7 linked regions of the Homo sapiens genome follow. The protein of the gene in region 2 purifies or fractionates together with the protein of the main gene of each other region. This does not show direct contact. Each region holds a gene or a part of one and is shown on either strand. Other genes may lie near its edges. The genes, in order: NLRX1, C19orf38, TTYH3, SLC7A2, SLC39A3, PDS5B and ORC5.

The links.
Region 1: the proteins of C19orf38 (region 2) and NLRX1 purify together in Homo sapiens (affinity purification with mass spectrometry; one large-scale study listed by BioGRID and IntAct). This does not show direct contact.
Region 3: the proteins of C19orf38 (region 2) and TTYH3 purify together in Homo sapiens (affinity purification with mass spectrometry; one large-scale study listed by BioGRID and IntAct). This does not show direct contact.
Region 4: the proteins of C19orf38 (region 2) and SLC7A2 purify together in Homo sapiens (affinity purification with mass spectrometry; one large-scale study listed by BioGRID and IntAct). This does not show direct contact.
Region 5: the proteins of C19orf38 (region 2) and SLC39A3 purify together in Homo sapiens (affinity purification with mass spectrometry; one large-scale study listed by BioGRID and IntAct). This does not show direct contact.
Region 6: the proteins of C19orf38 (region 2) and PDS5B purify together in Homo sapiens (affinity purification with mass spectrometry; one large-scale study listed by BioGRID and IntAct). This does not show direct contact.
Region 7: the proteins of C19orf38 (region 2) and ORC5 purify together in Homo sapiens (affinity purification with mass spectrometry; one large-scale study listed by BioGRID and IntAct). This does not show direct contact.

Annotation. Positions count from the first base shown.
Region 1 is NC_000011.10:119,171,628-119,175,896, forward strand, and holds part of NLRX1 (NLR family member X1 isoform 1 precursor), read left to right. Parts: intron 1-728; coding exon 729-798; intron 799-1,273; coding exon 1,274-1,362; intron 1,363-1,851; coding exon 1,852-2,471; intron 2,472-2,825; coding exon 2,826-3,647; intron 3,648-4,269.
Region 2 is NC_000019.10:10,861,641-10,865,909, forward strand, and holds part of C19orf38 (protein HIDE1 precursor), read left to right. Parts: intron 1-1,529; coding exon 1,530-1,567; intron 1,568-4,269.
Region 3 is NC_000007.14:2,641,499-2,645,767, reverse strand, and holds part of TTYH3 (protein tweety homolog 3), read right to left. Parts: intron 1-4,269. UniProt on the Homo sapiens protein: Calcium-independent, swelling-dependent volume-regulated anion channel (VRAC-swell) which plays a pivotal role in the process of regulatory volume decrease (RVD) in the brain through the efflux of anions like chloride and organic osmolytes like glutamate.
Region 4 is NC_000008.11:17,503,035-17,507,303, reverse strand, and holds part of SLC7A2 (cationic amino acid transporter 2), read right to left. Parts: intron 1-4,269. UniProt on the Homo sapiens protein: Functions as a permease involved in the transport of the cationic amino acids (L-arginine, L-lysine, L-ornithine and L-homoarginine); the affinity for its substrates differs between isoforms created by alternative splicing.
Region 5 is NC_000019.10:2,733,985-2,737,250, reverse strand, and holds part of SLC39A3 (zinc transporter ZIP3), read left to right. Parts: coding exon 1-203; coding exon of another isoform or gene 204-311; exon of another isoform or gene 312-2,725; intron 2,726-3,266. UniProt on the Homo sapiens protein: Transporter for the divalent cation Zn(2+). Mediates the influx of Zn(2+) into cells from extracellular space. Controls Zn(2+) accumulation into dentate gyrus granule cells in the hippocampus.
Region 6 is NC_000013.11:32,592,794-32,597,062, reverse strand, and holds part of PDS5B (sister chromatid cohesion protein PDS5 homolog B), read right to left. Parts: intron 1-4,269. UniProt on the Homo sapiens protein: Regulator of sister chromatid cohesion in mitosis which may stabilize cohesin complex association with chromatin. May couple sister chromatid cohesion during mitosis to DNA replication.
Region 7 is NC_000007.14:104,187,170-104,191,438, forward strand, and holds part of ORC5 (origin recognition complex subunit 5), read right to left. Parts: intron 1,213-4,269; coding exon 1,082-1,212; intron 799-1,081; coding exon of another isoform or gene 745-798; exon of another isoform or gene 1-744. UniProt on the Homo sapiens protein: Component of the origin recognition complex (ORC) that binds origins of replication. DNA-binding is ATP-dependent. The specific DNA sequences that define origins of replication have not been identified yet.

The sequences.
Region 1 (4,269 bases), on a different chromosome or scaffold from region 2:
CTCAGCTGCCTTTTTCCCAACCTAAAATAAGGGAGTTGGACTTGGCCAGGTGCGGTGGCTCATGCCTGTAATCCTAGCACTTTGGAAGGCCGAGGCAGGCGGATCACAAGATCAGGAGTTTGAGACCAGCCTGGCAACATGGTGAAACCCTGTCTCTATTAAAACTACAAAAAAAAAAATTAACCAGGTGTAGTGGTGCACACCTGTAATCCCAGCTAGTTGGGAGGCTGAGGCAGGAGAATCATTTGAACCGGGAGGCAGAAGTTGCAGTGAGCTGAGATCGCACCATTGCACTCCAGCCTGGACAATAGAGTAAGACTCTGTCTCAAAAAAAAAAAAAGAGAGTTGGACTAGATCATCTTCGAGAGTCTCTTGTAGCTACATAAGTCTAGGAACTTGTCTGATTTTACTTTACATACAACAGAGATTTACTGAGTGCCTGCCGTACCGCAGACCTGGTGTTAAGTTCTAAGTAAATAATTGTGAACAAAAACAGACGTAAAGGGGACAAAAAAATTTTAAAACACCCAAATGTGATCCCTCTCATGGAGGAGAGAGGAATGAATGTTAATCGAATAATCACACAATGAAATATAAAATTGCAAAATAACTGCTGCAAAGGGGCAGTACATGCTGCTATGAGAGCAAATACTGGGGGGTTTGATGTAGACATGGGTTCTGTGTATTGCATGGGATCTGCAGATGCTATTTCTTCCTTCTCTCTGTAGATGATCGTATCCCCTTCCTGATCCACTGGAGTTGGCCCCTTCAAGGGGAGCGTCCCTTTGGGCCCCCTAGGTGAGGCCTGGGTGTCATACCTTAGGACTAGTCTGGGCACAACAGAGCAGACTGGGAAGGGTCAGGACTTGGGGCTAGCTTGATCTCTTGGGGACCTTGGGGAGGGGCTTGGTCCTTTGGGGGTGGGAGGACAGTGGCAGCTCCAAGGCCTGAGAGGAAGTTGGCTTAGATCATCTGTGGTAGAAGGCATAGTAGTCAGTGGAGGGAGGACCCTGTGGGAAGTGGGTGGAGCCTCACATGGCCAGCCTGAGTTCCAGGCGGGCAGTCAGCAGTGGGGTCTGGAGGGCTAGGGCTAAGGCCTCAGCACCTGGGAAGGGTGTGAGAGTCAGACAAGCCTCTAAACTTGGGGGTCCAGTGTGGGGCCTTTATCTCAGGAAACCAGAAGTCTAGCAGTGCAGATAGGCTTGGACCCAGAGCCTGTGAAGGGGCTGATCCAAGTTACAAGTCCCAGCTCATCCCCTCTCCTTGTTCCCAGGGCCTTTATACGCCACCACGGAAGCTCGGTAGATAGCGCTCCCCCACCCGGGAGGCATGGACGGCTGTTCCCCAGCGCCTCTGCAACTGGTAAAGGGACTGGCTGGGACCCTGGTCAGGGGGTGTGGTGGGCAGACGGGGCTGGAAGGAGAAGCAGGGTGAGGGAGGCATAGAGGATCCACTGCCATCTTCCATCGGTGGTCCCTCCTCCTCTCTCTCTCTCCCTCCCATCCGTCTATGTATCCCTTCCTGCAATACTCTTGCAATGCACACTTATATGTACAAAGCGCTAGGAGAGCCATACCATCCCTATGCTCAACAAAGTTGGGTCAAGCAGGTTAAGACGGCACATAGGTCACTGTGAAACCAGTTTGTCCAGTGGCTTCCCACTTTCTGACATAGGGGTTCCAGACTTTCTGGACAGTCTATATTTTCTCAGGGAGTCTTGTGTGCCCACCATTGTGGGCCCCAGCATCTATGCCGTGATGTCCCAGCCTGACCTCACCACCGCCCTGATTGGCCCTAAGCTACATCTCCAGGCCCCTTTCCCTGACACATTTCCCTTATCTTCCCACTCAGAAGCTATACAGCGGCACCGCCGGAACCTGGCTGAGTGGTTCAGCCGGCTGCCCAGGGAGGAGCGCCAGTTTGGCCCAACCTTTGCCCTAGACACGGTCCACGTTGACCCTGTGATCCGCGAGAGTACCCCTGATGAGCTACTTCGCCCACCCGCGGAGCTGGCCCTGGAGCATCAGCCACCCCAGGCCGGGCTCCCCCCACTGGCCTTGTCTCAGCTCTTTAACCCGGATGCCTGTGGGCGCCGGGTGCAGACAGTGGTGCTGTATGGGACAGTGGGCACAGGCAAGAGCACGCTGGTGCGCAAGATGGTTCTGGACTGGTGTTATGGGCGGCTGCCGGCCTTCGAGCTGCTCATCCCCTTCTCCTGTGAGGACCTGTCATCCCTGGGCCCTGCCCCAGCCTCCCTGTGCCAACTTGTGGCCCAGCGCTACACGCCCCTGAAGGAGGTTCTGCCCCTGATGGCTGCTGCTGGGTCCCACCTCCTCTTTGTGCTCCATGGCTTAGAGCATCTCAACCTCGACTTCCGGCTGGCAGGCACGGGACTTTGTAGTGACCCGGAGGAACCGCAGGAACCAGCTGCTATCATCGTCAACCTGCTGCGCAAATACATGCTGCCTCAGGTGGGTGGCCCTTTACCCCAGGTTATCACTGCTGCCCGTTGACTCGCCCCCTAGGTCCTGGGTTACTTTAACTCCTGGTCCCTTCACTTCCCAGTGGTGCGACCCTGAGCAAGTCAGTAACTTCCCCAGCCTTCTGTTCCTTTCTTTTTGAGTTGCTCTGATCAAATGGGGTACTGCATATAATATTAGCACAGCGGCCTGGATCACAGCAGGTGTTCAGTAATTGCTAGTTATAACTGTTATCCTCATCAATGTCTTCATCCTTGGACACTCCGTCTTCAGGGGTCCCCTGGGAATAGAAGCAGTCAACAGGACACTAAGGTCTTTCTTAACTCTCAACCATGCTCTTCCCAGGCCAGCATTCTGGTGACCACTCGGCCCTCTGCCATTGGCCGTATCCCCAGCAAGTACGTGGGCCGCTATGGTGAGATCTGCGGTTTCTCTGATACCAACCTGCAGAAGCTCTACTTCCAGCTCCGCCTCAACCAGCCGTACTGCGGGTATGCCGTTGGCGGTTCAGGTGTCTCTGCCACACCAGCTCAGCGTGACCACCTGGTGCAGATGCTCTCCCGGAACCTGGAGGGGCACCACCAGATAGCCGCTGCCTGCTTCCTGCCGTCCTATTGCTGGCTCGTTTGTGCCACCTTGCACTTCCTGCATGCCCCCACGCCTGCTGGGCAGACCCTTACAAGCATCTATACCAGCTTCCTGCGCCTCAACTTCAGCGGGGAAACCCTGGACAGCACTGACCCCTCCAATTTGTCCCTGATGGCCTATGCAGCCCGAACCATGGGCAAGTTGGCCTATGAGGGGGTGTCCTCCCGCAAGACCTACTTCTCTGAAGAGGATGTCTGTGGCTGCCTGGAGGCTGGCATCAGGACGGAGGAGGAGTTTCAGCTGCTGCACATCTTCCGTCGGGATGCCCTGAGGTTTTTCCTGGCCCCATGTGTGGAGCCAGGGCGTGCAGGCACCTTCGTGTTCACCGTGCCCGCCATGCAGGAATACCTGGCTGCCCTCTACATTGTGCTGGGTTTGCGCAAGACGACCCTGCAAAAGGTGGGCAAGGAAGTGGCTGAGCTCGTGGGCCGTGTTGGGGAGGACGTCAGCCTGGTACTGGGCATCATGGCCAAGCTGCTGCCTCTGCGGGCTCTGCCTCTGCTCTTCAACCTGATCAAGGTAACATCCCGATCAAGGTAACCCCCCAACCTGCTCCTTCCCTCCCCAGCACCCCAAGCCGCCCACGCCCCCACATGGTTCCCTGTTCACCCCTTGCTCCTCTCCCAGCAGGAAACTGCTGCTTCCTGCAAAGGTATGAATCTTCTCCCTGGATCTGGTTTCAGCTCTGAGCATTTTGGCTTTTAGTGGGATTGCAGAGAGAGAAGCCACAAGGCTGGGGAAGGCTTGGTGGCTGGGGAAGGGAACCTGGGGACGTGGGGACTTTAATAATAATGCTACATGGATTCCTAAAAATGGTTTCCTTTTTGTGTCTTTCCTCCTAGGAGGCAGGCCTATCCTCTGCTTTGCAGGTCCAGAAACTCGATTGTGTCTGCTCCTCCAGAGGTGATTAGGCTCTGAGAGTGATGACTCATCCTAACTAAATCACCAGAGACGGGTTTATAAAGCAGATGCCATTTTATTCATTTATACTAGGAAGATAAATGGCATTGGTAATTGGCTTAGGGGAGTCATCATGAGGGCAGGTCCACTCCAGAAACCAAATTACAGACCTGAGGACTGTGCTGTGAGTGGCACAGCTGAGCGAGGTCTTTGAGGGCTGGAAGGAGCCACTCTGTGTGAT
Region 2 (4,269 bases):
GATCTCAGCTTACTGCAACCTCTGCCTCCCGGGTTCAAGTGATTCTCCTGCCCCAGCCTCCCGAGTAGCTGGGATTACAGGCACGTGCCACCATGCCCGGCTAATTTTTGTATTTTTAGTAGAGGTAGGGTTTCACCATGTTGGCCTGGCTGGTCTCGAACTCATGACCTCAGGTGATCCACCCACCTCAGCCTCCCAAAGTGCTGAGATTACAGGCAATTACAGGCGTGAGCCACCGCCCTTTTGTTGTTGTTGTTTTTTGTTTGTTTTTGTTTTGAGGCGGAGTCTCACTCTGTCGCCCAGGCTGGAGTGCGGTGACGCGATCTGGGCTCACTGCAAGCTCTGCCTCCTGGGTTCAAGCCATTCTCCTGCCTCAGCCTCCTGAGTAGCTGGGACTACAGGCGCCCGCCACCACACCCGGCTAATTTTTTGTATTTTTTTAGTAGAGATGGGATTTCACCATGTTAGCCAGGATGGTCTCGATCTCCTGACCTCGTGATCTGCCCGCCTCAGCCTCCTAAAGTGCTGGGATTACAGGCATGAGCCACCGCGCCCAGCCTGTTTTTTTTTTTTTTTTTTTTTGAGACAGAGTCTTGCTCTGTCACCCAGACAGGAACGCAGTGGCGCAATCATAGCTCACTGCAGCCTCGACCTCCTAGGCTGAAGTGATCCTCCCCTCTCAGCCTCCTGAGTAGCTGGGACCACAGGCATACACCACCACACTCAGCTACTTTTTAAATTTTTTTTTCTAGAGACAAAAAATTATGTTGCCCAGGCTGGTCTTGAACTCCTGGGCTCAAGTGATCCTCCCTCCTTGGCCTTCCAAAGCGTTGGGATTACAGCCGTGAGCCACCTCACCTGGCTAGAAGTGATGTTTAAGCAGAGACCTACAAGAATGGGTAATGGAGGCCGGGTGTGGTGGCTCACACCTGTAATCCCAGCATTTTGGGAGGCCGAGGCAGGCAGATCTCTTGGGGCAAGGAGTTCAAGACCAACCTGGCCAACATGGTGAATCCCTATCTCTACTAAGAATATGAAAATTAGCTAGGTGTAGTGGTGCATGCCTGTAATCCCAGCTATTAGGAGGCTGAGGCAGGACAATCACTTGAACCCAGGAGGCGGAAGTTGCATTGAGCCGAGATCCTGTCATTGCACTCCAGCCTGGGCAACAGAGTGAGACTCCTTCTCAAAAACAAGAAAAAAAAAATGGGTGATGGAGCAATTGGAGGAGAGCCTGGGGAGGAGGAGGAGCTGGCAGGTGCTCCTTCTGGAAGGCCTGAGATAAGACACCCATTTTCCTGAGGGCAGTGAGAGATACCCCTAGGAAGACTGTGTGTAGAAGGACTTGGTTCACTTTGTAGCTGTGAACAGTTCACCGTGCAGAATGGGTTGGAAAGGCGCCATAGAGGATGCTGGGAGATGGACCCCAATTGCTTCCCTGTGGGCTGGGGGGCAGTGCGGGGATGGCAGGGAGCAGGGAAGTTACAACTGGCCCCCAATCCTGGGTTTTCTTTCTCTTTCTGTTTCAGACATGTCCTTCGATAACTCCCTGTTTACCGTCTCCGCGGTGAGTGGTTCTTTTTCTTGGAACCGGTTTTCTGCTGACCGTCCTACCGGGAGAACGGGGCGGGCTCAAGGGGCACCACGAGGCTAAGTTGACCTGCTGTCTCTAAGCTGCGGGGGGGCTAGGAAAAGCCCAGAATCACTGAACAGGGACTCAGTAGTGAGCCGAGAGTTGGCTGTGAAAAAATCCCAGGGGGTGTGTTAATTGAAGGTGGTGACGTCAGGCTGTCTTGTGGCCACAGGCAGGCAGGCCCCTTGGTGGTATGTCCTGGCCTGGTCAGTGCTGCCTTTGGTCTCAGTCATGACAGCCCCTCAGAATGGTGACAGAGGATTCAGGGTGACCTGGTGGCCTCTCATAGAGGCTTGTGACAATCTGTGTCACAATCTGTGACAGGCTGTGGTCGGTCCCCTCTGGGTATAAAGAAAAGCATGAAGTTGCTGGGTGCGGTGACTCACGTCTGTAATCCCAGCACTTTGGAAGGCCGAGGCGGGTGTGGGTCAGGAGTTTGAGACCAGCCTGACCAATATGGTGAAACCTCATCTCTGCTAAATACAAAAAATTAGCTGGGCGTGGTGGTGCATGCTTGTAATCTCAGCTACTTGGGAGGCTGAGACAGGAGAATCACTTGGACCCAGGAGGTGGAGGTAGCAGTGAGCCAAGATTGAGGCATTGCACTCCAGCCTGGGCCACAAGAGCAAAACTCCATCTAAAACAAACAAACAGATAAAAATGAAAAAGTACAAATGCCAAGGCTACCCCAAAATGTAGCTGTGCAGAGAGTCCCATAGACCCAGGTTTAAATCCCAGCCCTGACACTGTGTGACAATGGGGAACAATATCCCCCAAAAGCAGAGGGAGGGATTTGTTTTTTTTCAAGACAGAGTCTAGCTCTGTCGCCCAGGCTGGAGCACAGTGGTGTGATCTCGGCTCACACAACTTCCGACTCCCGGGTTCAAGCAATTCTCATGCCTCAGCCTCCCGGGCAGCTGGGATTACAGGCACATGCTACCACACCCAGCTGATTTTTGTATTTTTAGTAGAGACGGGGGTTTCACCATGCTGGCCAGGCTGGTCTCAAACTCCTGACCTCAGGTGATCCACTGGGATTACAGGTGTGAGCCACCATGCTGGCTGGCTGCGGAAGCTGCTTTAGACAGGAGATCAGGAAAGTCTGAGATGGGTGACAAGCAGGAGGTGGGGAAGATTGGGGATGATTGATCCAGGCTGAGGACACATTTTTGGCACAGCCCAGTAAGCTGGGGTGGAGTGAGGAGTCGAAGGGGACCCCATGAAGAACTTTGATTTTACTGCTATTGAGCTGGGATCCCGGAAGGGTTCCTAGTATAGGAGGGAGGGGACCGGATTCAGGTGCACACAGGCGCCCTCTGGTGGCTTCTGCAGGAGGACAGATTTGGGGAAAGCGGGGATCAGTGGAAGGCAGGAGCCTGGAGACTGAAGAGCTGGGCCAAGCGTGCACCAAAGGGTGGGTGGTTTGGTCCAAAATGTTGGCAGTGGAGTTCGAAGAAGTGATCAGATGCAGGTTAGGGGAGATATAGGGGAGAGAAAACACAGAGCTGATTTTTGATGAGGGGGCCAAGGGAGAAGAGGGAGGCCAAGGAGGGTGAGGCTTGGAGGGTCAGGAGTGTGGAGTCAGCCACCTCAACCCATGGCGCCTGGGAGCAGATGGAGAGGGGAGTCTACAGTTCAGGAGAGAGGTCAGTTCTAGAGATAGACTAGGAGTGCCTGGGATACAGATGGTAGGAAGGAAGGGGGCTTGGCACGGGCCTGTGCAGCCCTCTGAGGTCTCTGCTTCCAGAATAAATCCTGAGGCCATAAGAAAAACCCGGCAGGCAGGGCTCAATCTAAACGTTTCCATGAGAATCCACACCGCACAGAACACCAGCCTGGTGATGCCCCCTCTCCCCACTTTTTGAGGTAGTTTTTATTTATTTTTGTTTGTTTTTTGAGATGGAGTCTTGCTCTGTCACCCAGGCTGGAGTGCAGTGGCTTGATCTCACTGCAACCTCCACCTCCTGGATTCAAGCGATTCTCCTGCCTCAGCTTCCCGAGTAGCTGGGATTACAGGCGCCTGCCATCGCGCCCGGCTAATTTTTGTATTTTTAGTAGAGACGGGTTTTCATCATGTTGGCCAGGCTGGTCTCCAACAACCGACCTCAGGTGATCCGCCCGCCTTGGCCTCCCAAAGTGCTGGGATTACAGGCATGAGCCACCATGCCCGGCCTTTTATTTGTTTTTTTACTTTTTTTTTCTTAAATTAAGGACCAGGCGTGGTGGCTCATGCCTGTAATCCCATCACTTTAAGAGGCCGAGGTGGGAAGATTGCTTGAGCCTGGGAGGTTGAGTCTGCAGTGAGCTATGATTGCATCACTGCACTCCAGCCTGGGTGACAGAGCAAGACTTTGTCTCAAACAAACAAAAAATTTCCGTATGAAAAGCATTCACATGTCAAAATATACAATAAAGTTTTCTTACTAAGCCATGCCTCTTCATCCATTGGTATTCCTTTCTGCAGACATACAGGTAACCACTGTTAGCAGCTGCACGTGGCAAATACACGCAGAAGTGGATCTGTACCTTCACCCACCACCCCCGCCAATTTTTTTTTGAGACAGGGTCTTGCTCTGTCTCCCACGCTGGAGTGCAGGGGCACCATCATAGCTCACTGCAGCCTTGATCACCTGGGC
Region 3 (4,269 bases), on a different chromosome or scaffold from region 2:
GGGGTGAACATGGAAGAGGCCCCATCAGGAGTCTGATCCTGTCTGGGGTCTGTGCACCGAGAAGCTGCACTCAGGGGTGGGCACCGTCCATGGCGTGCCCCCACGCTGGATGAGATGGTGGGGCTGGCCCCACACTGCTACAGGCTGCATACAGGCGCCCCATCGGACACACAGCCCTGTCTGGCTCCAAGCACGGCCTTCCAGTGTGGCTCTCCCCAGGTCTCTGAACACAAAAGACAGACCACAGAACAGACACCAGAGCTCCCCTGTCCCGAGGCCAGGCGACCCCCACAGGAAGTGGCTAATTTGATGCAACAGTGACATTTCCTCAGCACCCGCTGCGGGGAGGGAGGGTAACGTGGCCCCAGAGCTGTCCCTTCTCCTGGCACTGCATTCGATCTGCCTGGCCGAGTGCTCTCACCCCATTTCATCCACAGGGAAACTGGGCTTCATAGAAGCTACAGAGAAAGCACACAGGCCCTGCAACCCCAGGTCCCTGGATTCAGCATAGCCCTGCCCCCGGCTCAGCCCTCCAGAACCTCCACACACTTCCTGTGCCGGGGGAGGGATGGGGAGCTGATACAGGGCTGCGCCTCATCATGGGGCCAGGGACCACCTAGAGGCTAACTTGGGGGTGCCCTGGGGGGTGTCAGCAGCTGGGGCCCTCAGTGTTGTGGGGTGGCCACCAGGCACACCTGCGCTGCCCTCATTGGCACTACTGCAGAGAAACGCCTCTCTCCCCACATCTCAATGCTTCAGCAGTGTGGCCCTCTTGGGACCCCAGCCTTGGGAGCTGCTGGGGCAGATGGTCCCCTGCCTGGCCCCCCCTTGGGATGAGAGGCTCAGCCACAGTGGGCAATGGGATTGCTGCTGGATCTCCCAGGAGACGGTTGCCAGGCAGTGGGAGGATGCCGTGTCCTGCCCTCCAGGAAGCCGGCCGACGTCCACACCCGAAGGCGGCCTTTCCACCTCCACCCAGCCAGGGAGGTGCTGACCAGCCCGGCACACCCAGAAATGAGCCGCCATGGTCCAAAGCCACACCGGTGTGTCCACGGCTGCCCAGCAGCCAGCAATCTGGGCACTGCAGAGCATCAGGGGCGGGCACCCTCCCACTCCTTCAGCCATGCACAAGTGCCTACCGCCCCTGCAATGGCAGGAGGACTGCTGGGCCCTGCACCCCCACCCTCCAGGGGCAGGACCCAGGGCTGGCACCAGAGCCACTGAAACTGAATCAGCTCAGGGCGGTCTCATGGTCCCAGGGAGCTCATGTCACAGAGGGGTCCTCAGGGCCCAGTAGGGCTTACCCAAGATCACACAGGGAGGCGGAGACAGTCCAGTCACTTGGCAGGGCCTCATATTAACAGTCCCAGCACGGTACCCATGCTCTGTGCTCAGTGGGTTGTCTATAAACGTTAGGGAGCTTGGAAAAGCCACGCTCTGGGGCTCCCTGGGTCTGCCCTTGCCTGTGTGGGGCTGGGAATGGAGTGGAGGTGCTGACCCCACCGGCTGTGACTGCAGGCCCTGCCAGTACCCTCCTTATAGCTCAGAGGCCAACGGCAGAACAGACCTGTAGGGGCAGCTGACCATGCCCCCCGGGACCAGAGCTCCACAGGACCCATGCCCACGTCTGCACTTCCATCCACAGGGCCTCCCCTGGGCTCCCATGGCCTGGGGGCCATGTCAACCAGCCGCATCTTGGCCCCGGGCTGGTCAGACTCCTCCAGCGAGCCCTCCCTCTGCTCTCCACTTGCAGAGGCCTCCCCAGTCCCTGGCTGGAGTCACCCTCGCTCCCCCGACCCTGTGCTCCGGTGGGACATGACTCTAGGAGGGCCTGTCTGTACTGCACCCCACATCTGGGACTCACAGCCTCGCAGGGAAACTCCTCCTGGGGTGAGGAGCTGGGGACTGGAAGAGCAGGTCAATCCCAGACACGCATTACGCAGAGCCTAAACAGGTGTGACCTCCGCAGCCACCGGCCTGGCATGTCCACCCAGAGCTCGGGGCATCAGCGTACATCAAAGGGCTTCCAGGTCCAGATCACTTCCTCAGCGGCGCCAGAGCCACCCACTCCCACTTGCCAGATGAGAAAACGGAGGCAGAGCGAGATAAGCCCTGGCCAAACAGGATCTGGGCGAGGCAAGCCCGTCCCTCAGATGGCACTGCCCTGGTGCAGAGGGCTGATGCCCAGGGGCAGTGGGCAGGGGACGCCCATGCCCGGTGGGGAGAGGCTGCTAAGCACCAGGCACCCTTGCCCTTGGCGCCGCCTGCAGGGTGGTGAGGGAACACAGGCACTCAGCATCATCGTAAGTGAACTGTGAAGCCTGCTGGATGGTGAGAGACGCTGAGAAAAACAGAAAAGGCAGCACAGGAGCTGGAGTACCGGGGACTCTACGATTTTTTTTTTTTTTTTTTTGAGACAGAGTCTCGCTCTGTCGCCCAGGCTGGAGTGCAGTGGCGCCATCTCAGCTCACTGCAAGCTCCGCCTCCCGGGTTCACGCCATTCTCCTGCCTCAGCCTCCCAAGTAGCTGGGACTACAGGCACCCGCCACCAAGCCTGGCTAATTTTTTGTATTTTTAATAGAGACAGGGTTTCACTGTGTTAGCCAGGATGCTCTCGATTTCCTGACCTCATGATCTGCCCGCCTCGGCCTCCCAAAGTGCTGGGATTACAGGCGTGAACCACCGTGCCCAGCCTTTTCTTTTTGAGATGTAATTTCACTGGTGATGCCCAAGCTGGAGTGCAGTGGTGTGATCTCGACTCACTGAAACCTCCGCCTCCCAGGTTCAAGCCATTCTCCTGCCTCAGCCTCCCAAGTAGCTGGGATTACAGGTACCCGCCACCAATGCCTGGCTAATTTTGTATTTTCAGTAGAGATGGGTTTTCACCATGTTGGCCAGGCTGGTCTCAAACTCCTGACCTCAGGTGATCTGCCCGCCTTAGCTTCCCAAAGTGCTGGGATTACAGACGTGAGCCACCACACCCAGCCCAAGTCTACGATTTAAAAAAAAAAAAAAAAAAGAAAAGAAAAAAATTATTTTAGAGACAGGGTCTTGCTCTGTGGCCCAGGCTGGAGTGCAGTGGCACGATCACCACTCACTGAAGCCTCAACCTCCTGGGCTTAAGTGATCCTCCTGCCTCAGCCTCTCAAGTAGCTTGGACCACAGGCACATATCACCACGCCTGGCTAATTTTCTTTTTCTTTCTTTCTTTTTTTTTTTTTTTTTTTTTTGAGACAGAGTCTCTGTCACTGAGGCTGGAGTGCAGTGGCATGATCTCGGCTCACTGCAACCTCCACCTCTCAGGTTCAAGTGATTCTCCTACCTTAGCCTCCTGAGTAGCTGGGACTAGAGGCATGCACCAACACACTTGGCTAATTTTTGTATTTTTAGTAGAGACGGGGAGTTCACCACGTTGGCCAGCCTGGTCTTGAACTCCTGACCTTAGGTGATCTGCCATCTCGGTCCCCCAAAGTGCTGGGATTACAGGCATGAGTCACTGTGCTTGGCCTCTGCCCTAATTTTTAAAAAAATTTTTTGTAAAGACAGGGTCTGGCTATGTTGCCCAGGCTGGTCTTGAACTTCTGGGCTCAAGCAATCCACCTGCCTCGGCCTCCCAAAGTGCTGGATTACAGGTGTGAGCACCGCGATTGGCTGAGGCAGCTTTCTCTTGTTCTTGCCTGGATGGGGCCAGCTGCAAACGGAGCCTCGCTCCTCAGCCCCTGGGGGCCAGAGGCCAGGCTTCGGGGCCCCTGCCAGGACAGCCTCACTTGGCTTCCCCCAACTGAGGAAGGAGATGGCGCCTCCCTCAAAGGGAGCCCACTTGGGCTGCCCGGGTCCCAGCCCACCACTGCGAGCATGCAGAGCCTGGGTGTCAGGGTGCTCAGCAAACCGGGCAGCTGCTTCATCCCACGTCAGAGCCCCGGCACCCAACGCGCCAGGCCTGAGCCCAGCTGTCTGCGGGGAGCGTGCCGTGGCCAGCCTGGCCTCTGCACCCACTTCCCGAAGCCAGATTCCCAGCAGACGGTCTCCTGCGGGGCACCGGGCCAGCGGCATTCCTACGGTGGCCCAGCCACCTCTCTCCACCGGGCTGGCGGCCCCTCCGCCCCTCCCTGGCCCATTCAGAGAAAGAATGGGAACTGTCTGATCAGCAGCTGGGCTCTGACCAAATGGAATTTTCCGTCTGTGGTGGAAGTGATGTAAGGGCTCGGTCAGGCGAGGCGAAAACTGCACGCTGGGTTCCGCGGAGCACACGGAGAGGACTCAACTGCC
Region 4 (4,269 bases), on a different chromosome or scaffold from region 2:
TAAAATCTAAAAATGTTAAGTTGTAATTGTACTGATCCCCAATTTAAAAATTCCACATAGGCCAGACACAGTGGCTCACGCCTGTAATCGCAGCACTTTGTGGGGCCGAAGCGGGTGGATCACAAGGTCAGCAGATCAAGACCATCCTGGCCAACATAGTAAAACCCCATCTCTACTAAAATACAAAAAAAATTAGCCAGGCATGGTGGTGCCCGCCTATGGTCCCAGCTACCTGGGAGGCTGAGGCAGGGGAATCGCTTGAACCTGGGAGGTGGAGGTTGCAGTGAGCCAAGATTGCACCATTGCACTCCAGCCTGGCAACAGAGTGAGAGTCTGCCTCAAAAAAAAAAAAAAAAATTCCACAAATAAGTAGTGCATTCTAGTAATTATTATTTGTTTTCACAAAAACAGAATGGTCTGATTTTTCAACATGCTTGGACTCTAGTCTTCACTCTACCCCTAGCTGTCTAACCTCACATGAGCCGAGATTGCGCCACTGCACTCCAGACAGGCAACAAAGCAAGAGTCTGTCTCAAAAAAAAAAATTCCACAGAAGTAGTGCATTCTAGTAATTATTATTTGTTTTCACAAAAACAGAATGGTCTGACTTTTCAATATGCTTGGACTCCAGTCTTCACTGTATCCCTAGCTGTCTAACCTCAGATGAGTTACACCTCTCAAGATCTCAGTCTCTTAACCTATAAAAAGAGCGTTCTAAAATGTCATTCTGAGGCACTTACTTCTCTTCCATATTCGTCTAGCACCGTGCCAGAAACTTGATAACTGTCCACGGCGAGGGAGGCTAGAAAGGAACGTGTCCAAAGCCTCTGAAATTTCGCACAGGACAGTTTTAAATGTACTGTGAAGTTTACGCTTTAAAATACAAAACCAACTACCACAACAGTGTCTCACCATTTTTATAGTGATATAACCAAATGAATTTCCAGGACACCTAGACTTATTCATGTTATCAATCCTCTTTAAAGAAAATAGTGATTTTTGTTATAAAAATGAAATTCTGCTAAGTTTCAAGAGAGTTTAAAGCAGGCACCAGCCCAGCACTTGTTTTCACAGCTCTAGTACTACAAATTTTATCAACACCCACTATTGTCTCTGAATGGCATGTAAAAGTGCTCTGTGCTATGTTCTTGATGAATTGTACAGACACAAGTCCTACTCCACCTACACAACCACTATGCCACAAATGCAACGCATTTAAAAGAGGGCTTTCTTTTGCAATAAAACATTACAAATCCTAACTACAAGTAAAGCAAGTGTTGCAAGAGATAATTTTTCAGTAGCTAAATCAGCATTAAAATTCCTCACTTCGTCTCAATATTATACCTTAAGCATGTTATTAAACAAACATTAACTGTAAAAGGAAACGCTATGGGTTAGTTATTTTACATTGTAAAAACTGATAAGGCCCTGCAAGGATGCTTCCACTGGTCTTTAGTATGATTCAGTTCTACTCAACTGTAAGTTTATTAAATCTCAGAGATTTCTACAAGAATATCCGTATCAGACTGACATTGAACTGGCAAGATTAGATTTCAAATGTCACACTAAAGATGCTCCAATTTTAGATAAGAAAAGAGGGCACTGACTATGCTTACCCATTTTTTTTCTGTTTATGTCAGACATTTACAAATACTCAGTTTAAATTATCTCAGCCAAAACTCAAGTAAATTTGTTTCTGGCCCATAGGAAGACATTGAAATCTACGAGTCTAAGAATCTGGAGGAAAGAAAGATGGCGAGGCTGGAGATCACTGAAGTCAAGTATACCCTTGAGGCCAGGGAACAGCATCCACCATGGCACTAGTTGAGAAGGGTCATTGCTATGTTACTGTCATACCTCTGTGACTCAGAGTGACCCCAACTGCCACATCTACCTCTGGGCCAGTTCTCAGCCCCAACTTGGAGGCCATAAGCGGTCTTCTTCAGCAAGAGGAAAGGATGCATGACCAAGAAGGCCCCATCCTGCTCACAGGATTCTCTCCTAAGATATTTCTTCGAGAAGTTGAAATGGTTTCTGCATTCCAAGGTTCTTATCTTGGGTTTCTGAAACCCTAGTTGCCCACTGGTTGGAATGTGGGAAGTCTTGACCTTCCAGAAATCTTACACAAAATTGCCAGAGGGAAGAGGCACAGTTTACATACAGATGTGCATTCTTTTTTACAGGGAAGTGAACTGGATGGGATCGGGTGGGCGGCGGGGGGGTGGGGGGTGGTACATGCTTCCATCACTTAATTTCCTTAACTCCCCTAAAACATCAAGGGAGCCACTGCTGCACAGAACAGCTGCTATGATCTTAGAGTTCTTCTTTCCCACAGAGGCACGAATGTAAACAGAATGGCCAGCAGATCGGAGTAAAGGAGGAGGAGCTCCTTCTCTGTGTATCAGGGAACTATGGGAACCATTCATGCAAATGCCTTTCATTAGAAAAAACTGTAAAAGTCACGCAATCTTTTCTTTTTCTGGACCTGAATTTCTTTAGTTCTCCTGTTTGAGTCAGTTACTCAATCTTTTAAGAGTTGCAGTAAAATTTCAGAGACTGCTCAAACAGTATGGCGCTTAAGTTGTAAATATTATACAATTCTACCTAAAAAGAGTATGACCTTTAACTTCTCCAAATGTATTAATAAAAGTTGGTAATAAAGATGAAAGCCAAAGAGAAGACGATGTGGTAGAAGAGTAACTGAGAACATATATGGGTTCTCTAAGGAATGCATATAGAAATACAATTGATAAACCGGATAGAATTAATTGTTACTTTGGTCACTCAAAATGACCTCAATTTTATCCCATAATAAGAACCACTGGCAATTCTATCAAGTATGGGCTCCGCCAATTAGAATTACATAAACATTTAAAAATATCACTGCAATACAAGACTTTAAAGTATGAAATAATTTAAAGTGCAACTAATTGAAAGGTAAGGGTTTCAATCCCCTAGACACTGAACTCCATAAGAAACTGACCAGTGGTCCAGGAGAGCCACAAGATCTCATTTACCACCGGCCTCAATCTCACTAAGCACTTGGCACATTCTCAGAGGGCACACAGCTGGTGCCCAATACTTACTCCTCACTGAGGCTCACTAAACACTCAGCAGTGCCATTTTGTTTCAGGATGATCAATAAACTGAATTCTTAGTAGTTTGTTATTCTTCTACCAATGCCTTCACAAAGGTCCAGATCAATGCAAAACGCCAGGCCTCTGAGTTGAAATCGAAATCTCACTTTGCTTGGGGAATCACAGCCAATGTGACTTCACTTTCTTGCCATAGGCTGCTGTGGAACAAAGGTAAATTCCTCATGTGGCCAAAACACACCTGAGTGTTGCTGAGGACTTAAGGATGGAGGGTCAAAACTCACCCCAGGCTCCTTCTAGGTTTCCCCAGAACTCAAGAGCAAAGACGTCTCCCAAACAATTGCTTAAATCACAACTGAATTAAAGAAACCACTTAAAACTTGCTGGTGAATTCAAACATAAATATAAAATTGTATTGTTTCATATGATCATTAAACAAAAAGTCCATACAGAGTAGCCTAAAGCTTTGAGCTCAGGCTTTTCCCACAGGAATTCATACCCACATTGATACAAATTATCATGAAGAGTTTCCATTTGAATTTTTGTCAGGACAAGTACCTTGGCAAGTTGCAAATATTCTGCGAACTATGAGCGCCGCGTATGAATAATAAGTACTCTTTGATACAAATTATCATGAAGAGTTGCCATTTGAATTTTTGTCAGGACAAGTACCTTGGCAAGCTGCAAATATTCTGCGAACTATGAGCGCCGCGTATGAATAATAAGTACTCTTTGCTAGAACAGATAAGGAACACCGCGGGAGTGAATATAAAGTGAATTTCAGGAAGGAAAAAACTCGCGATCTAAAGAAAAAGCCACCCTTCTGAAGCATAAAATTTTTTTCAATAAAGATGTTTTCAGCCGGGCGCGGTGGCTCACACCTGTAATCCCAGCACTTTGGGAGGCCGAGGCGGGCAGATCATGAGGTCAGGAGATCGAGACCACCCTGGCTAACGCGGTGAAACCCCGTCTCTACTAGAAATACAAAAAATTAGCCGGGCGTGGTGGCGGGCGCCTGTAGTCCCAGCTACTCGGGAGGCTGAGGCAGGAGAATGGCGTGAACCCGGGAGGCGGAGCTTGCAGCGAGCCGAGATCGCGCCACTGCACTCCAGCCTGGGTGACAGAGTGAGACTCTGTCTCAAAAAAAATAAAATAAAATAAATAGAAATAGAGA
Region 5 (3,266 bases), 8.1 Mb from region 2:
AATTGCTAGTGGCCAAAATCCTGTGCATGGTGGGCGTGTTCTTCTTCATGCTGCTCGGCTCCCTGCTCCCCGTGAAGATCATCGAGACAGATTTTGAGAAGGCCCATCGCTCGAAAAAGATCCTCTCTCTCTGCAACACCTTTGGAGGAGGGGTGTTTCTGGCCACGTGCTTCAACGCTCTGCTGCCCGCTGTGAGGGAAAAGGTAAGGGCTCCCTGGGCACTAGCAGCAGCCCTTGGCACCTTATGGCCAAGGGACTCTGATGCATTTTCAACACTGATGCCAAGTTCAGTGAAGGCCTTGATGCTGTAAGGGTGACGGAAAGTAGGAAGTGAATTTGCTGTGTGATTGTGAACTGGTTACTTTCTGTCTCTGTGCTCTACCGGCCAAACAAGGGGTTTGGACCAGACCTGGGATTCCCAACAGGTGGACTTGTCGGTTGTCACCTGATAATCAGACCAGACTACCCACCTAGGTAGGGCACACTCTGTCCTGAAGCTGGAAAGCATGGCCTCTCTTCGGTTCCTATATCAGTCAGCTACTGTTGCGTAACAAATTATAGCAAACTGAGCACCTTAGGACTACAGACGTTTATCATCTCACAGTTTCTGTGAGTCAGGGGTCTGGGCACTGCTTCAGGAGCTCACAAGGCAGCAGTCACAGTGTCTCCTGGGCTGTGGTCTCATCTCAACGTTCAACCGGGGATGGGTCGGCCTCTAAGCTCATGTGGTTGTAAGCCAGGTTCAGTTCCTCATTGGTTGTCAGACCGAAGGTGTCTGTTTGTCAGTGTCTGTTGGCTGGGGCAGCCCTCAGAGCCTGGCCACGTGGACCTCCCCAGCATGATCAGTTCCTTCATCAGCAAATGGAGAAGATGGCCATGACTCTGTGTAAGACAGAGGGCACAGTCCCATGTCATGCAGAGGTGACAGGGTATCCCTTCCCCTCTGCCCCAGTGTCCTGCTGGTTAGAAGCAAGTTCAAGTCCTTCCCATACTCAAGTGGCCAGGACCTCACAGGGTATGGCTGTCAAGAGGCAGGGGCTTCTGGGGCCATCTTGGAGTCTGTCCACCCCAACTCCTGACAGCATCATCCTCTGCTGACCTGTTCCTTGAGCTCCCCCATATCAGCAGCCCAGAGTGTGGGTCCCCTGTCAGGCCACAGTGTGACCAGCCCTGGCCATGCTTGCTGGGTGACCCTGGGTGAGTGGCTTCCTCTCTCTGGGCCAGTGCCAGATGTGACATTGAATTTGTGTTGGTTACATACTTGGTGGAGATATGAGGACCCCCTGTTCTTCCTCCCAACGAAAGCATGGAAGCCCTAAGCTTATCCCCCAACCCCTGGCCCTGCTTTTCCTCGTGCCTAGTGTCCAGAAAGGAGGAGAAGGGCTGTTGTCTGGGATTAAATCATCTGAGCCTGTTAGTGTGGCAGAGTAGAGTTCCAGGGTGGCTCCCTGAGCTTCCAGCCCCTGCTCCGCACGCCCCATGCTCTTCCCTCCCCTCGAGTGTGGGTAGGGCTGGGACTGCCGTGCGTGTCACTCCTGCCATTATGTCAGAATCCCAGCAGAGGGGATGTTGCAGCTGTGATGACCGCCCCAGATCGGTTAGCGCTGAGTTCATCAAAAGGGAGGGGGTGGGCCTGGCCTAATCAGGTGAGCCACTCACCCTCCTGCTGGCCTTGGAGAAGCAAAAAGCCAGGGTGTGCCAGGAGAAGGGCATGAAGCGAGGACCCGAGGGCAGCCTCTCGGTGCCAAGAGCCATCCCCGCCAACAGCCAGCCAGGACACGGGGCCTCAGTCCACAGCCACCAGGAGGTGGACTCTTCCGACCTCCAGTGAGCTTGGAAGAGGACCCTGGGTGTCAGTGAGATCTCAGCCCTGATGACACCCTGCGAGACCTGGAGCGTAGGGCCCAGCTAGCCCGCACCTGGATTTCCACCGTTCAGAGCCGAGACACCGCATTCCTGCTGTTCCGCGTGGCTGAGTCTGCATTCGTTCGTTACGCGGTGTGTGAAGACTGACATCTGCACTGCGAGGATGGAGATCTTGGTCATCTCTGACATCTCCTGCATCGCAGAGGCCACTGCCAGCCCCCCTTTTCCCCCATGGTCATGGTGTCACCCCCGTCACCCTCTGACTGCAGGCCTGGGCGACTGCGGGGAGCTTGCTCTTCCCTCCCCCTCATCACAGTGGCCTTCTCATGGCACCCAAACCTTTCCCGCCGTTCTCCTGTCCTCGGGCTGGTCAGGCGGATGAGGTCCCTACTCCCGAGCCCCCAGCCTCACCCACTGCAGGGCCAGGCTCTCAGTCACCCCTGGAAAATGGTGCCTGGTTCACAGCTCCCGTGCATCTGCCTCATCTCTCCTGATCAACGTCTGTCTCTTGGGAGTAGCTAGAGTTCCTCATGAGCTTGTCCTCAAGCGAGGCATGCATGAGGCCTCCAGCCGGTGGTCAGTGAGGGAGTTAAGTGGCTTCTCCGTGGAAACACAGCCTTCTGCTGCAGCAGAGGCTCACCCAGCGTGAACTGCCCCCAGGGAACACTGGGCGATGCCTGGGGACATTGTGGTTGTCACGATGGGGGGTGCTCCTGGCCTGGAGTGGGTGGAGGCCAGAGACACTGCTCAGCAGCACCCTGCAGTGCCCAGGACGGCCCCGTCCCAGAGAACAATCCAGCCCCGAATGTCAGCACCTTCCCCCTACCCGAGTTGTGAAAATAAAAAATGTTTCCAGACATTGCCAGGTGTCCACACGGGCAGAATCGCCCTGGTTGAGAACCACTGTGTGCGCGTGCTTGTGTGTGCACCTGCGTGTGCGCGTGTGTGTGCGTGCGTGTGTGCACATATGCGTGTGTGTGTGTGTGTGTGCACGTGCGCAGGTTGTAATGAAGTCTCCGCTGGGAAGGAAGCAGGGAAGCAGGCATTGTTGAGTGTCGATTGTGTTGTGATTTTCCTCCACTTTGGTCTCGAGGTCTCTCTGGAGGGTGGCTGTGAACTCTGGCCCTGCCGTGACGAGGCTCCAGGGAGCTGTTGTGGGCGTTTACAGCCTGCCTTTCATGAGACATTTCATCCTGGCGCATAGCCTAATGCCTGCGTGTCCGCCCCGTGAGCAGCTGTCCCTCCCATAGGAGTGTGTACCTCTTGCAGACGCCCTGCGGCTCCCGTCTGACCCACGTCTAGTTTCTCCCCACCAAAGTCTCCCCTCGCTAGGAGAGCCCTGACCAGGAGGAGAGTCGGGCCCAGGCATGTCGGTCAGGGAAGCAGAGAGGAGGCCCCGC
Region 6 (4,269 bases), on a different chromosome or scaffold from region 2:
CTGTCTCAAAAAAATAAAAAATAAAAAGAACTCAAAGCACAATCCATAAAACAAAAAGTTGATTGACTGGACTTCATCAAATTTTAAAACTTCCACTCATCAAAATACTGTTAAAAAAAAGATAAGGCAAGCTACAAAACAGGAGAAAATACTCTTAATACTCTGATCTGACATAGAATTTGTATCGTGAGTACATTAAGAATTCCTGCATATCAATAGTAAAAAGATAATCCATTTTTTAATGGGCAGAAAGCTTGAAGAGGCATCCTACGAAAGAAAATATACTGTCAACAACCATGCAAAAAGGTGCTCAACATCACTAGATATCAAGGAAATCCAAAATAAAACCACAATGAGATACCCTTCCACACCCACTAGAATAGCTAAAATTAAAAAGATTGACTAACCAAGTGTTGGTGAGGATGTAAAACAACTAGAACATTCATATATTCAGGTGGGAATATAAAAAGGAAAACCACTTTGAAAAACTAGTTTCCTGTAAAGTTAAACACACATATGCCTACAAACCAGCAATTCCATTCCTAGGTATTTACTCAAGAGAAATGAAAACACACACTTGCAAAAAGATCTGTATAGGCCTTATTCATAATAGTCAAAAACTGGATTCTACCCAAATGTCCATCAACAGAAGATAAACTGTGAAATATTCCCCCAATGAAATATTACTTAGCAATAAAAACTGATACATCCAACCCCATGGATGAATCTCAAAATATGTTAAGCAAAAGAAGCCAGATACACAAGAGCACACACTGTATGAAGATAGAACAAAACTAATCTACATTTAAAAATCAAAGAGTGTTTGGAGGCAAAAGAAATTGAATGGAGAGAGCAACAAGGAAACGTTGTGGGGTAATAAAAATGCTCTACATCTTCTTGTGGTTATTGGTTACATGTGTATAATCATCACACCTCATCAAAGTGAACAGCTAAGATCTGCACATTTTACTGTATTTTAATTACACCTCAATAAAAATAAAATTTTATATTTCTAAATAAATCTGTGAGCTTAATATTGTATTAATTTTCCTTGTCTTGGGTTGTCACATATATGTTTAGTATATATACATTATTACACATATTCAATAAATATTCATCATCTACAATGCGCTGAAATCTTTGCTAGATCCCAAAGTAACTGCAAGTCCATGGCCTCAAGAAGCCCACCTCGGCCTCCTAAAGTGCTGGAATTACAGATGTAAGCCACTGTGTGTGGCTGCCAGCATTTTCTTTTATTTCCTTATAGGTCCTTTGAACCCCCCAAACAATGAAATGTTCTAGCATCCTATTGTTAGACCCTTTGTCTCTGTGTCTAATTGATAGTTCTCTGCTTATTAACAGCTCAGTTTGGTTTATTCACGTGTCCAAAGTTCTCCTTTTCATCTTCTATTCAGGACCCAATAGGAAGGTTTTTCCAATACCTAACTCTTCTTTTAGGGAATGCATGGTGGTTCTTTCTCCTTCTCACAGACTCTGTGTATACCTCTATTGTGGAAATCCCATGCTATGTGTTACTATTTGTTTAAGTATGTGGTTCCTTCTACATAGTTGTGTTTTGAAACCCCCAGAAGGATATAACATAACATTAACATATATAAACTTTTGTGGGAGTCTAGGAATGAGGCAAATGGGGAAGGAATGAGAGGTTTTTTATTGTGTATCTTTTTCCTTTTTGCCGTCTTACTTTTGGAGTATATATGTGCATATAATTTAAAATAATAATAACCTTTAAAAATACTATATCAGAATCAACAGGATTTGGTAACTTATGTAATGTGAGAGTTAGGGGAGATGGAGAAGTCAAGATGACTCCCAGGTTTCTAGCATGATGATAAACCTAGTCATGTCATCCCCTACAACATTTTTTTTTTTAAGAAAGAAATCTGTTATTAATCAAGGTACAAGTTGGAAAGATGTTAAAGAGTAAGAGAAGGTAGATCAGTTTGGGATATATTGTACTGGAGGTGTTGTGTCCAACAGTGCACTAGAAAAAGAAGATGGGAAATTCAGGAGAATGGTCAGGGGACATAGTTGTTACTAGAAGCCTTGGAGAAGAAGACACGTATATGAGGCTAATTTATCTAGGAATTACTTATTCTGTAAGACCAATTAACAGGGATGAAACCAAGACCCACAGAATAAACTAAAAAAGCAACTATATCAAAACGACAGCGTAAGACCATATATTGGTATCCTTTTCATACAGACATCAGGCTCTCACTAAAAGATTATTTACTAATTTAGTCCCCCAGGTTCATAACAGATTAGAAACATCAAAAAAAGGTGTAGGAATAGCTTCCAGAGGCAATCATCTGGCAGCAGCATGAGGGTACAAAAACAAAAACAAATAGTTTAAGACTTCAAAAAGCATTGCATTCTTTACTCTTCATTAAAGCCAGAAATCCCATCTTTCCATCATCTAAGACTTGGTCAAAATGGTTGCTCCTTCAAGAATTTTTTCATAGTTCCTGTACTCTCAGAGTAACATGACTAATCTCCATTTGTCAAGTTTCCAATTCCAAATATTGTATTGAGCCCTTCCTGAAGGCACTAACTATACTCTGGCTTGTTTTATAAGTATTTTTATACCAGCCTCTTTCCTCCCACTTGAATATACATCTCTTGATTGAGTATCTTTCATCTTTGTATCTCTAGCCAGCACTGTGCACCACATCCTTGCACAGTATGGAAGTATGCAAACATCCATTCAGTAATTATCCCATTTTTGCATTCTCTAAAACTATGTAAATGGACTTTGCCACACAGTCTCCCTGCAAAAAGTTATAACTGCTTTTTTACTGTGTACTTACATTTTGGCACCAACCTAAGCATTTGACCTGGCTTATCCCAAACACTAAAGAAATAAGGGGTGATGGGAAGTGACAGCTAGTAGGTTCGGGGGTTTTATTTTTATGCTTTTTAACCAGCATATAATTGTACATGTTTGTGGGTTACATGGTGATACTTCAACATATACAATGTGTAATGATCAAATCGGGGTAATTAACATATCCATCACTTCAAACATTTATCATTTATTTGTGTTGGGAACATTCAAAAGCCTCTCTTCTAGCTAGTTGAAAATATGTAACAACAACACAGGTTTGAACTGTGCAGGTTCATTTATACATGGATTTTTTTCAGTAAAAGTTACAGTGCGCCTCCCTCTCCTGCCTCCTCTTCCACCTCCTCTCTCTCTTCCACCTTGCCACCCTCGAGACAACAAGACTAATCCTTCCTTTTCCTCCTTCTCCTCAACCTATTCAACAGGAAGACAAGAAGGCTGACGACCTTTACGATGATCCACTTCCACTTAATGAATAGCAAATATATTTTCCTTCCTTATAATTTTCTTAATAACATTGTCTTCTCTCTAGCTTGCTTTAAGAATACAGAATGGAGGCCAGGCGTAGTGGCTCACACCTGTAATCCCAGCACTTTGGGAGGCCAAGGCGGGCGGATCACCTGAGGTCAGTAGTTGAAGACCAGTCTGGCCAACATGGCGAAACCCCGTCTCCACCAAAAATACAAAAATTAGCCGGGCGTGGTGGCAGGTGCCTGTAATCCCAGCTACTCCAGAGGCTGAGACATGAGAGTCGCTTGAACCCATGAGGCAGAGGTTGCAGTGAGCCGAGATCGTGCCACTGCACTCCATGTGTTAACTGACTGTTTATGTTATCAGTAAGGCTTTCAATCAACAGTAGGCTATTACTACCAAAGTTCAGAGAAATAAAAGTTATATGTGGAGTTTCAACTGCACAGGGGTTGGTGCCCCTAACCCCTTCGCTGTTCAAGGGTCAGCTGTAGTCACCCAGTACAACACTAGAACTTATTCTTCCTATCTAGCTAAATTTTGTAGCCTTTAGCCAACCTCTCTCTATCCCTTCTCACCTCTTGAGGAGCCCCCATAATATTCTCCGTAATGGCTCTACTCATTTACATTTGGTTTGGCGTTTTTCACAGAAGACAAAAATGTTCCAAAATCAGACTGTGATGATGGCTGCACAAACCTATGAGTATCCTAAAAAATAATGAATTGTGTATTTTCAATGGATTATGGTATGTGAGTTGTATCTCAATAAAGCTGCTTTTAAAAATGAGGTTTCTGCTGTTAGTCCCACTGTTCAGATTAAGAAGTTGAGATTTAGTAAGATTAGGTAATTGCTTGTTTAGCTAGAGGAGATAAAAACCCAAGCTGTCTTGACTCTTAAGTCTATATGCTTAAATTAACCACCATGCTCTTCTGCA
Region 7 (4,269 bases), on a different chromosome or scaffold from region 2:
CCCTCTCCTCTCTGTAAGTCTCTTGTGTTATCATTTCCCTCAGAAGCCAGGGATCCCAAGACATCCAACTTCTAGAGGAATGTTAGTGATAAGCTTGAACTGGAAAAACTGTTTTGTTTTTTCCCAGCTGAGAAGATGTCTGAAATCTACATGTAAATCAGAGGAGCCCTGAAATCTGAAACTTTCAAAAACATACTAAATGTGAGCATAATTTTAAATGATTGCCTTCTGTGTTCTGTCGCAAACACACACTGAAACTAAGTAATACTTTTCAGGGCAAAAACAGAAAAAGAACAAAGTGAAGAAAATGTGCTAAGAGACATAGAATCTGTTACTTTGAAAGTGACTGTTTTCCAGCCTCAGATATATTACTATTTTCTGTTAAATGGAGATAAGATCTTAATTAATTGAAGATTTCTAAAAGGGAAAACAGAAATTCTTGTCTCTTTCCTTTCCCATCCCTACAATTAAAACAAAAAAGGTCAAAGAAAAATTAAACATCAACATTTTCCAAACTGTCTATGAAATATAAACAGCTATTCTAATTGTTAAAAAAAAAAAATTAAAAAGAACCATCTATACAAAGATTACCAGCTCAGGGTCAGTGGTTAATGAAAGACCTGCAATGAAAGCTTCTGACCATACTCAAATCCATCTAGATTCTAGACCTCAATCACCGCATACATAAAACTTGAACAAAATCTGTTACAAAATATTAACAGAGTTGTAAAACTGCTCAAGTTTTTACATCTCTTTTCTGTTATTCCTCATTTTGATTTTTATGGAGTTCTGCATTTTCTGCAATTAGAGAAAAAACAAGGAAGAGTAAGAAGATCTGAGAATGACATTTTTCTGATCAGATCAAACAATCAAAGTTTGTACTAACCCACAGACATCTACCTTCTTATGGTATGTTAGTCTCTAGAGGCCATATGCAAATTCCCAGAATAAAATTTCAGTTTCTAACCTATCTCATACCATTTCTACATGGAAAACATTAAAATACATATATACACATATATGTATACACACACACACACACACACACATATATATATATTCAAGCAAAATGTTCATTTACCAGATGTCTGAGCTCTTTCAAATCTCGACAAACAGTGTAGAAAACTCCAAGAAGAATGTTAATGTAGGCAGCATAGAAATCAGCTGAATACTCTGGAGGATGATCATGGGACAGGATCTTTTGAAGGTTGCCTGTTCACAGGACACAAAATAACTTATAATGATTAACATAGTACACTAATCATATCTTCAAGCATTTTATAACAAAGGTATTAAAAAAAAAACACCCAGACCCAGCAACAATTAAGGAATAATAAAACTATTACAAGATTAGAATACAAAAGTGTGATTTGTGATATAATAAAAAATATATATTTGATCTTCACTGCAGTTCCTGGCACAGAGCTTCTAAAAACCCTCATAATTCCCTGAATGAGAAGGATAAGAGGAGTATCTTTTGTTACTCATAATAAGTCCTTTTAAAACATACCTCAATTTATACTAATGAGGTGTTTCTTGATGGGTGATATGGTTTGGCTCTGTGTCCCCACCCATATCTCATTTGAAATTTTCAGTGGAGGAGGGGCCTCGTGGGAGGTGATTGAATCATGAGGCAGACTTCCCCCTAGCTGTTCTTGTGATAGAGTTCTCATGAGATCTGGTTGTTTCAAAGTGTGCAGCACTTCCCCCTTCATGCTCTCTCTCCTGCTGGCCATGTGAAGATGTGTTTGCTTCCCCTTCACCTTCCACCATGATTCCAAGTTTCCTGAGGCCTCCCCAGAAGCAGAAGCCTGTACAGCCCACAGACTGTGAGTCTATTAAACCTTTTCTTTATAAATTTATAAATTACCCAGTCTCAGGTATGTTTATAGCAGTGTGAGAATGGACTAATACAGCGGGCCCCTAGATAGCTTCAGGATGGGGACTGGTTGTCAGAGGAACCAACCAAGTGATTAGAGCCCTGTATTGTCACATACACTGCTATGAAGAAATACCCATGACTGGGTAATTTACAAAGAAAAGAGGTTTAATTGACTCACAGTTCTGCATGGCTGGGGAGGCCTCAGGAAACTTACAATCATGGTGGAAAGCACTCAACAGGGCAGTAGGAGAGAGAATGAGTGCCAGCAGGGAAAATGCCGGATACTTATAAAACCAACAGCTTTCGTGAGAACTCAGTATCTTGAGAACAGCATGGGGGAATCGCACCCATGATTCAATTACCTTCCAACAGGTCCCTCCATGACATGTGGGGATTACGGGATTATAATTCAAGATGAGATCTCAGTGGGGACACAAAGCCAAACCATATCAAGGCCCCACCTCCTGTCCTTGGGAAAAGGAGAAGGGCTAAAGACTGAATCCATGACCAATGACCAATGATTTAATCAAATCATGACTATATAATGGCACCTCCATAAAAAAATCCTAAATGATGAGGTTCTGAGAGTTTCCAGGATAGTAAATATATCCACATGCTGAGAGGGTAGCACACTCCAGCCCCACAGGGACAGAAGCTCCTGAGCTTGGGACCCCACTGGTCCTTGTCCTGTGTACCTGTTCATCTGGCTGTTCATTTGTATCCTTTATGATAAATGGAGTAAGTACAGTGTTTCCTTGAGTTCTGTGAGCTATTCTAGCAAATTATCAAACCTGAGGAGGGGCTCATGTGAAACCCCAATTTATAGCCAGTTTTCTGGAGTACAGGTAGAAACCTGGGACTTAGAATGGTGTCTGAAATGCTAATATTCTTGTAGGACTAAGCCCTTAACTTGTGAGGTCTGCACTAACTTCTGGTAGTTAGTGTCAGAAGTGAATTGAATTTTAGGACACCCATTTGATATCTAGAAAACTGAAGAATTTGTTGTTGGGTGAACAAAAATACCCCACACATTTGGTGTCAGAAGTGTTTTGAGTAAAAATACTTCTGAAAAAGTAAATCACAATTTTGAAACTGAGGGTAAAAAAAAAATTATTAAATACTAAGACAAATAGAAAACAATGACATCTAAAGAAAATCTCAACAACCTTATTACCGGCAAAATCAGTAACAAGGGAAAAAATACTGTAGATTCTAGTTTATTTTTCTTCCTATTAAGTAAATCAACTAGGAAGAAAAAGGGGATAGTACATAAACTGCCAACAAACTAGAAAATGCTCTTCATGTTTTATAAAATGAAAAGAATTAATCTTTTTTTACAATAATCATCACCTGATCCTAGTCCTTACTTTGTTATTCCCCCTTGTATAAAACGTATTTTCTCCCTACAACTTTGATATCTTTACTCTACTTCTATTATATCTCAGACTCTTTATAAAATACCACATTAAGAGTCCTAACCTTATACTTTATCCTGCTGGAAATAATCATATTTTAGAAACACAGTAAAATTTAAAGGGAAACAACCATATATTATTCAAAATTTCCCAGTCATAATACAGGAATCAATTAGTCATTCATTCCTTATTGTAAGATCCTCTGACTTCTTGGTGCAATGCTCTCCTTAGACTTCTTAGTTAAGAGCTCTTTGCATATGACTACAACTTTAAACCTAGTTCCAGAGGGCTCAAGTTTTTTGCAAAAATTACAAGGAAAAACTCTTCCAGGATATTCTAATCATGTCAATTTCCTTTTGTTTAAGGTTCCCAGTAAGTTAGTATTTTTAGCCAGGCCATTTACCATTGGCCCTTGATTTTAACCACTCTTGTGCCTGCCAATCAATTAGATGCAGGTACAAGATCAAAAAATATATATGAACTATCTGAAAATTTATAAACAGAAGTTTAGAAATAGCTCTATTAAGGAATATTTAAACACAGAAGTTGACAAAAAAAATTTCAAAGCCTAGTTTTATACTTAGAATATTAGCCTGAATGGATACTAGATGAGACACTGTTACTGAATTTGCTTTTTTATTTCAAAACTGCTGAAAAAAAAAAAAAAAGCCAAAACTTCCCTGTAGAGTCCATGTACTTTTACATTCTAATAGCAAACTTTAAATATAATGTCACTAAGTTTTTTTAACTAGGCATGGGGAAATAGTTAATATACTGAAAATTTCTAAAAGGTACCATAAAACTTAGAAACAAAGATATCTACCTATAAAACCTACCAAATAACTGGATGGATGTAAGAAAAGAGAGATGGAAGGAAGAGATAAATGATCACAGAGATTAACATACATAAAGCAAAACAACAACAACAACAAACTTCTATAAATGAATGGCTAAGAAAATCTGGAAAACAGT